2 linked regions of the Homo sapiens genome follow. The protein of the gene in region 2 interacts with the protein of the main gene of each other region in a biochemical or structural test. Each region holds a gene or a part of one and is shown on either strand. Other genes may lie near its edges. The genes, in order: SLC8A1 and S100Z.

Evidence for each region.
Region 1: the proteins of S100Z (region 2) and SLC8A1 interact in a biophysical measurement, tested with the Homo sapiens proteins (one large-scale study listed by IntAct).

What each region holds. Positions count from the first base shown.
Region 1 is NC_000002.12:40,102,489-40,106,304, reverse strand, and holds part of SLC8A1 (sodium/calcium exchanger 1 isoform A precursor), read left to right. Parts: 3' UTR 1-3,816. UniProt on the Homo sapiens protein: Mediates the exchange of one Ca(2+) ion against three to four Na(+) ions across the cell membrane, and thereby contributes to the regulation of cytoplasmic Ca(2+) levels and Ca(2+)-dependent cellular processes.
Region 2 is NC_000005.10:76,848,348-76,852,848, reverse strand, and holds the start of S100Z (protein S100-Z), read right to left. Parts: upstream 2,836-4,501; 5' UTR 2,694-2,835; intron 1-2,693.

The sequences.
Region 1 (3,816 bases), on a different chromosome or scaffold from region 2:
GGCTTCCCAAAGTGCTGGTATTACAGGCATGAGCCACTTTGCCCAGCCTGATAGTTCTGACTCAATCCCTAGACACATTCTTCAGAAACAACTGTACATGGTGAGAGAAAAGTGAAAAGGAAAAAAGTTTTCCTTCCTTCAAAATACACTAAATTTGCTTATCACCTTTAAAATTTGGACTGAATGTTTAAACTTTAAACACAAAGCAAAGGGAGATGCTCTTAAATGTGAAATCTGAAGCAAAGATTGCATTTTTGCAAAGCTATCCAGAAGATGTGTTAATTATTGAGACATGGGATTCATTAACACATCAGCGCCCAACCACTGCCTCTCCTGCCCCCATTCACACATTATCCACAATCAAATAAGCAGCTAAGCAGGGGAAACCTATCACTGTTAATGTCATAATCACATCACCACTGAATTACCAGATGTGGTCAGGAACTAGGCAAAGTAGGTGGGACCAATCCTAGGACTGGGGCCATACCACAACCTCAGCTCAGCCCCTTGTCGGATACGGTTTCTGAATTTAGTACAATGCCAGAAGTATTTTTTTTCTTTCAGCTGTGAACCAGCCTGTTTTGTTTGACAAGCCTTTCCAGATTCATGCAGCTCAATCACGTGCTTGTTGCCAGTTTGAGAGTGAACCTATTATTTCAAACTTGTTGCCGTGACCAATTTTTACAAAACTGAAAGTAGCACTGTGAGGTGGATTGGACCTAGTGATGAGGTGTCTACACTTGCATCCTTTTCTTCCAAGAGAATATTCTGACACTCCAACTCTAGAAGTCATGTCATTAGTAAAATGAAAATAATAATTGCTTAATCACTGTTTAGAATTAGTTCATACTTCTTCAGAGCTTGAAGCCTCCACGACTCAACATCAGATCCATGGATAGTATTACTATACCTTTACCCAAAGACTGGATTTATTTTGTAAAAATATCAGAATGGGTCTGGGTCCCTTTAAAGCAACTGACAAGGTATTTAACAACATTTTAAAACAATGAAGAAAGGATGATTCTGCAGAGGCTGCTGGGTTACAGAGGAGGGCAGAGCTTTTGTCAGACTCTCTTGATGTTTTGCTCTTCCTGGTAAGTTTTTATCTATCATGGTTCCCAGTGGAATATTCTCCATACACATTCTGTGGGAGGATATTGACATGGCTCTAGACTCTGCCTTTTATTTTCTAATTCTCCTTGGAGAATTAGAACAGGCATTCCAGAACTTGTAATATAGAGGGGAAGAAAGAAAAAATGGCAGATGCCTCATTGATGGATCCACAAGTTTTGTACAAAAGCACACACCATTCTGATTGTCTCTATATTAACATTGTACTCACCAAACAGCTTTCTAAAGGTGACTGGAACAAGATAAATATCAACTGGATAATTACCTAAGGAAAAAGAATAAAAAAGAAATCAAACCAAAAAAAAAGCAAAAAATTGGTCAGTTTAGCAAGCGTGTTTTCCAGGATCATAGGCTCATAAACTATACAGTCAAGAGAGTGAAACAATTTTAAAATCAAAAGTTAGAGCCTTTTATATTTCTTCAGATGTACAATTTCATAAATCAAGCATTTATTTTGTGCAAAGTATTATATTAGGTACCCTAAATGGTATATAAAGAATTCAAAACAGAGTAATTTAAGAAAATTAACACTAGTCTTTGATTTAGTCAGGAAGAGTCCACTTATGGCATTCTAATTAAATTAACCTTCCATTTTGGTCTACATTTTATCAATTTGAGATTGCTTAATGGGGCCATTTTGAAACCTATCAAGAAACTTTCCTCTAACAGAAATAGAAATATTAATTTTCTTAATTTCACATTCTGTCTTCCACTAATAAGATAAATGGATTCAGACCCAACACACACATCCAGAGATTACCATGAGCCAAGACCTGTGTAAGTTTGATATAGGGTCTTTTATTCAACATTTCAAGTTGGGAAAATCTTATTACAAAGATCATTTGCCTCACCATTGCTGAATTCTTTTACTAGGTGTTGATGCTAATTCATCACTGGATTTTCTTAACTCTGCCTGTTGCTCTTTTGGACTTTGAGGCATGTGGTTCTATTTCAGTGAGTTACAACTCCAGCTCTCATCTTTTAACAGCAAACTAGAGAACATCTCACTCTTCATCTCTGAGGACACAGTGTTCTCTTCATTTTAACATCAAAAAGTCACCAGAGAGAAGACCCAAAGGCTTTTCTCTTTGGAAAAGGAATCTTTAATTGTTTCAGAGGGTGAGGAATCTTCAGCTCTCTCTGGACTTGATTGTCCTCATCATTAAATGGGAAGACTTTACCTTTAGCTTGATTTTCCAGAACACATCAAGCCCCGTATGGTCAGTGTTTCCCTGTTATCATCCACTTATGTGTATGGGTTGAAGGTACTTTAAGTTGTGAGCCAGCTGCTGCCCATATTGGGTCACCAATGCACTTGTCAAGCCCATGTAACCACATGAAGTTTGATAGAAATATAAACATTTATTTTGAAATAATTCCATGTGCACGGTTGGAAAAACAGTCTCCCTTCCCTGAGAGGAATGAGTAATTTCTCCCTTTTCAAGAAGTGTACAGTAGAAAATGTAATGAGATTGGAATGGATTCCAAATCAGTGACCTTTTTAAGGCTGAAACCACTATTTTAAATGAAAACTTTAAGTTCATACAGTTTCTTATAGTAATTCTACTTTTATTTTTTAGTCAGTGTGCTTAATCTTTTAGGAAAAAAAACTAACCAGTTATTTTTTACTAAAGTATGTGAATTACAAACAGGATGTGCAATGACCAGGCAGAAAGATATTTAAAGGTGTAATTATTCTAAAGGAAGATGAGAAAAAATTCATCTGCTACAGATTCAACTGTCTTTTAAATGCCTCCCTTGTCATGGAGTAAATGACTACTCAAAAGGATTTCACAAAAGACTTAAATCTCACCCTTAGCAATCAACCGGTCGGCCACAGCTCAGATGCCTCATTAGCAAAATGAAATTGCACAACAGACGAAACATAGCAAAAGAATGTAGACATTTCCATGGGGTGGAAGAAAAGAAGAAAGAAAAAGCAACCATAGTGAACTCTGCTTGCATAAACAAAGAATGTTTTAGTGGAATAAATGTAAGCTTTCTCTTGAAGGAATCCCAGTTAGAATGTCATTGGAAACGGCAAAACTATTTCAGCTTCATAGCAGTAATATATTCCAACTTTATTACCACTGAGGCACAAAGCTAAATTTGTCAGGGGGAAAGGTAAGCAAAAATTACTGACATTGCAACCGATAAAATGATCTTGTGAGACTCAATATTGAGAAAGAAAATTAAAATAGCTAATATTTCTGTTATAATTCCAGTGATTACTAAGACTTCTGCCAAGGGATAAAATTACTTTTCCTTCTCTCATTATAAATTTCTATATAGAGCTATTTTAATGCAGTAAGGACTGTATTTTCATATTTTAATAAATCCCTCACGTTGAATTTGCCCCCCATTTCAGATTTGATTAGGAAATACTAAATTGAGAAGGCAGGTTTTTCCATCTTTTTAAAAACAAGTATGCACCATAAGCATTTTCAGCGGATGTCTGCCTTAAGCAATCTTGGTAGAGCTGTCAATCAGTGGCAGGTGCTTGTTTAAGGAAGAGAACCTGTGAATAGATTTAGCCTTTCTTCCTCACAGACAGCTGCTCATTCACACACGCTCATCTCGTCTTCCTCAACTTCTTGCACCAATCCCGCCTCTTGGATTGACCCACATCCACCTAGCAGTTGAACAAACTGCAGATTCTAATTACATGTCCCGACAGTTGCTCAA
Region 2 (4,501 bases):
TGCTAGAAAGCCTAGAATCAAGTTCATGAGCCACCTAGGCCGAATACTTGATTTTACCACATGCTGCAAACTCAAATACCTACAGCCGGGTCATGTTCAAACTTTGCTGTTTTTTGTTTGTTTGTTTGTTTTTTGAGACAGAGTCTCACTCTGTCACCCAGGCTGGAGTGCAGTGCAGTAGCGGGATCTCAGCTCACTGCAACCTCCGCCTCCTGGGTTTAAGCAATTCTTGTGCCTTAGCCTCCTGAGTAGCTGGGATTACAGGTGTGCACCACCATTCCTGGCTATTTTTTTGTATTTTAGTAGAGATGGGTTTTCACCATGTTGGCCAGGCTATTCTCAAACTTTGGCCTCAAGCAATCCACCCACCTCAGCTTCCCAAAGTACTGGGGTTACAGGTGTGAGCCATTACACCCAGCCCAAACTATTTAACAACAGATACAACAGAGGCACTAAGCAGAATGAAAAGCAGTTGTGAACAGGGAGCATCAGCCTGCTTCCACGGCCAGGCTGCTAGTGTAAACAGGCAAAATTGAGACTAAGAAAAAAAAAATATCTTGACTAATTTTTTTTATTACATTTGATAGAAGGGTGAGTTCAGAGAAATAGTCCATGCTGATAAGAGGACCGACACTGCTTCAGTGCCAGACAGCCAAGTGGAGTGGAGGCCAGTGGGAAATTGGAGAGCCCGTGCTCTCCCAAGAAGGCGAGACTGCTTCTCAGACCCAGATCATCGTTGCCAGATGGGATATGGCTCAGAGCTCCCAGAACTTCACTTTTTTTTTTTTTAAAAGAAAAAGTGAGAAATTTTAATTTTTAAGAATTCCTGGATTTTAAGACTGCAACTCAAGACAAACAAACAAAACCCACCAAAACCCAACAGACAAACATAAGACTGCAGGACAACTCAAACAGGAAATTCAGCGAATGCTGGCCAGCTTGTGACTTCTGCTTTCTGCTGTGTACTTTATATTTAACCTCATTCCTTCCTCTACTTTACATCTCGTTCTTTTCTGTCTGCTTTCTCTCCTACTTAATTTATAATATCTTACTCTACTTTGTGTTATCTTCATATGTCACCTTAAATCCTACCTAGGACCCAGGAGAGTATAAATAAACTGACCACAGGACATCTCCACTTAGGTAACACATCAGAGTCTCAGATTCCAAACCACAGCAAACTGATTTTGGCATTTTCCAATCCCCTGCTCCCTTCTTCCTCTACCCCAGAGGGGATCCCCTTTTTTTGCTGCTCCAGTCAACAGCAATACCCTCATTCACCCAACTGCATGGCCAGAAACCTGAGTATGATGCTATTCCTGGCCCCTCTCTCTCTCTCATGCAATCAGTTGCCAGGTTGTATCTCCTCACTCTCTGTTCCTTCCTCCTCAACCCTAGCGCCATAGTTCAGGCCCTTGTCACTTCTGGCCTGAATTACTGCATGAGATCCCAACTCACCTCCTGCACCTACTTTGCTCTTCTTCAAAATTAGCCTCCCCTGCCTGCTGGGAGGCACACCTGAGCTCCTCACTTAACCTCCTGGACAGGCCCTGCCATCCCCTGGCTAAATCTAAACTCCCCGCAGTGTGCCCACCCATCCCCTCTGCACCATCTGTGCCGCACACGTGGCACTGCCACTGTGCTGCCCATTCCTCTGCTCAGGTGCCAGTCCTCCAGGGAAGCCTCCGATGCCCCTCAGCTCCTGGGAGCACTCCGCCTCTGGGTGCCCCTGTATCACCTCATGCTTTCCTCTAGACCTGCACCGGCACTGGGTTGAAGGAAAATAATAGTAGCCAACGTTAATTAGCACATACTCTGGGCCAAGCACCCTTCTAGGCAGTTTAAATGTATTCCTTTATGTCATCCTCAAAAATCCCATGAGGAGGCTGGGGAGCGGTGGCTCATGCCTGTAATCGCAGCACTTTGGGAAGCCAAGTGGGAGGTGGAGGTTGCAGTGAGCTGAGATCACACCACTGCACTCCAGCCTGGGTGACAGAGTGAAACTCCATCTCAGAAAAAAACAAAAAACAAAAAAAACTTTATTTCTCTGTCTAACCCAAATTTTGTGTCCTCTCACCAACTTCTCCCCAGCCCCTCCATCCCTCTTCCCTCTCTTCTTCTGTAGGCTGAGAGCAGCCATTCCAGGGCTGATTGTCCAGGCATGCCCAGCACTGGCCAGTGTGAAGAGGAGGAGCATAGACCACTGCTGTGACTTCCTGGGAGTGGGCTTACACTGGCATCTGTGCAGGCTTCAGGAAAAAGAAGCGAAATCACGGCGTGGATCTAAGGGGCCAAGCCTCACCTTGAAGGTTCTTCTGGGTCTTTGGCCTGGACAAGAACATGAAACTTGAATTTCTCAAGGTGAGGTGAAGGCCAAGCAGGAAGCCAGGATGGTCACCAGGAAAGGAGCCAGAATGAACTAAGTGTTCTTTAGGGCAAGGAACTTACCAGAACCTCTACGCTCCGAGCTATGATCAGGCTGCTCTCTCCCTCTCTCTCTCTCTCTCTCTCTCCCCCACCCCCCCGACCCCTTTGTGGCCAAGGTAAGGCCACATTTTAGAGTGGAAGCCCCAAGGCAACCCCCCACCTCACAACCTCCACTCTTGTTGCCCTCTCTAATCCAACGCCTGCCAGGCTCACACTTCAACCACTAGACTGAAAAGCAAGAATCTTCCACAAAAATAATCTTTTACCTTAGACCTGCTTCCTGTGCAGATGAGATAAGGAGAATGCTCTTGTCTGAATTTCTGGGCGTGGAGATTAGCAAGCCGTTTTCCTCCCAGCAGCTAGAGCGAGCAAGAGGCCCTGCTGTGAGTAGTGCTGTTCTGAGTCTGCGTGGTCCAGACTCACCACACTGCAGGCACGTTTCTTCATCAGGTGGGAAAGCAGGAAGAGGTTTAATTTAGGACCTAAAGCTGGTATATTGCTGAGTAAAAGAAATGGGAAGGCACCAAGTCTCTAACGAAATTGCGCTGGGTGCAGTGGCTCATGCCTCTAATCCCAGCACTTTGAGAGGCTGAGGTGGGTGGATCACTTGCGGTCAGGAGTTTGAGACCAGCCTGGTCAACGTGGCGAAACCCCATCTCTACTAAAAATATAAAAATTAGCCAGGCATGGTGGCGGGCGCCTGTAATTCCAGCTACTCGTGAGGCTGAAGCAGGAGAACGCTTGAACCTGAGAGGCAGAGGTTGTAGTGAGCTGAGCTCGCCGCTGCCCTCCAGACTAGGTGACAGAGCCAGATTCCGTCTCAAAAAAACAAAAAAAAAAGAAAAAGAAACTGCTTGTGATCCAACACTCCCCCACTGGTGCCTCCTCATGGTGAAGAGCAATTACTCTGGCACCAGAGTCTTGGGGTTCAAATCCTTACTTCACCAGTATGTGACTGGAAAAGCTACCTAACCTGCCTGCTGAAGCTTCATGGCTAATAATTCCTCACAGCATTTCTTTTTTTCTTTTTTTTTTTTGAGACAGAGTCTTGCTCTGTCACCCAGGCTGGAGTGCAGTGGCATCATCTCAGCTCACTGCAACCTCCACCTCCCTGGTTCAAGCTTCTGCCTCAGCCTCCCAAGTAGCTGAGATTACAAGCGCCCACCACTAAGCCTGGCTAATTTTTGTATTTTCAGTAGAGATGGGGTTTCACCATGTTGGTGAGGCTGGTCTTGAATTCCTGACCTCAAGTGATCCGCCCACCTTGGCCTCCCAATGTGCTGGGATTATAGGCGTGAGACACTGCGCCTGGCCCAGGAGGAATAAGTTTAAGAGCTCCCATTGTACAGCATGCTATCTATAGTTAATAACAATATATCGTGTATCGAAAATTGCTAAGACAGTAGATGTTAAGTGTCTTTATCACCCCCAAAAAATGACAAGTATATGGGGCAATTAAGTCAAATAGCTTGACTTAATAATTCCACAATGTATACATAAATTAAAACATCAAGCTGTATTTGTATACCATAATATATACAATTTTTACTTGTCAATTAAATAAATAAATACACAGAAAAGGGCAGAGACAGGTCAAGAAGCACAGCACTCAGTACAGAAATACAGATAACAATATATTGAAAGAAAGAATTCAAAGATAAATTTTTTTTTTTTTTTTTTGGAGACAGAGTCTTGCTCCATTGCCTAGGGTAGAGTACAGAGACACAATCACAGCTCTCTGCAACCTCAACCTCCCAGGCTCAAGTGATCCTCCCACTTCAGCCTCCCAAATAGCTAGGACTGCAGGGTATGCCACCACAACCTGGCTAATACTTGTATTTTTTTGTAGAGATGGGGTTTCACCATGTTGCTTGCCCAGTCTAGTCTTGAACTCCTGGGCTCAAGTGATCCTCCCAGCCTGGCTTCCCAGAGTGCTGGGATTACAGGCACCAGCCACCGCACCCGGCCAAAGATATGTTCTGAAGATTGAAACGTCTCTCTTTCCAAAATAACTACTCTTGGCCAGGTATGGTGGTGTGCGCCTGTAATCCCAGCTACTCGGGAGGCTGAGGCA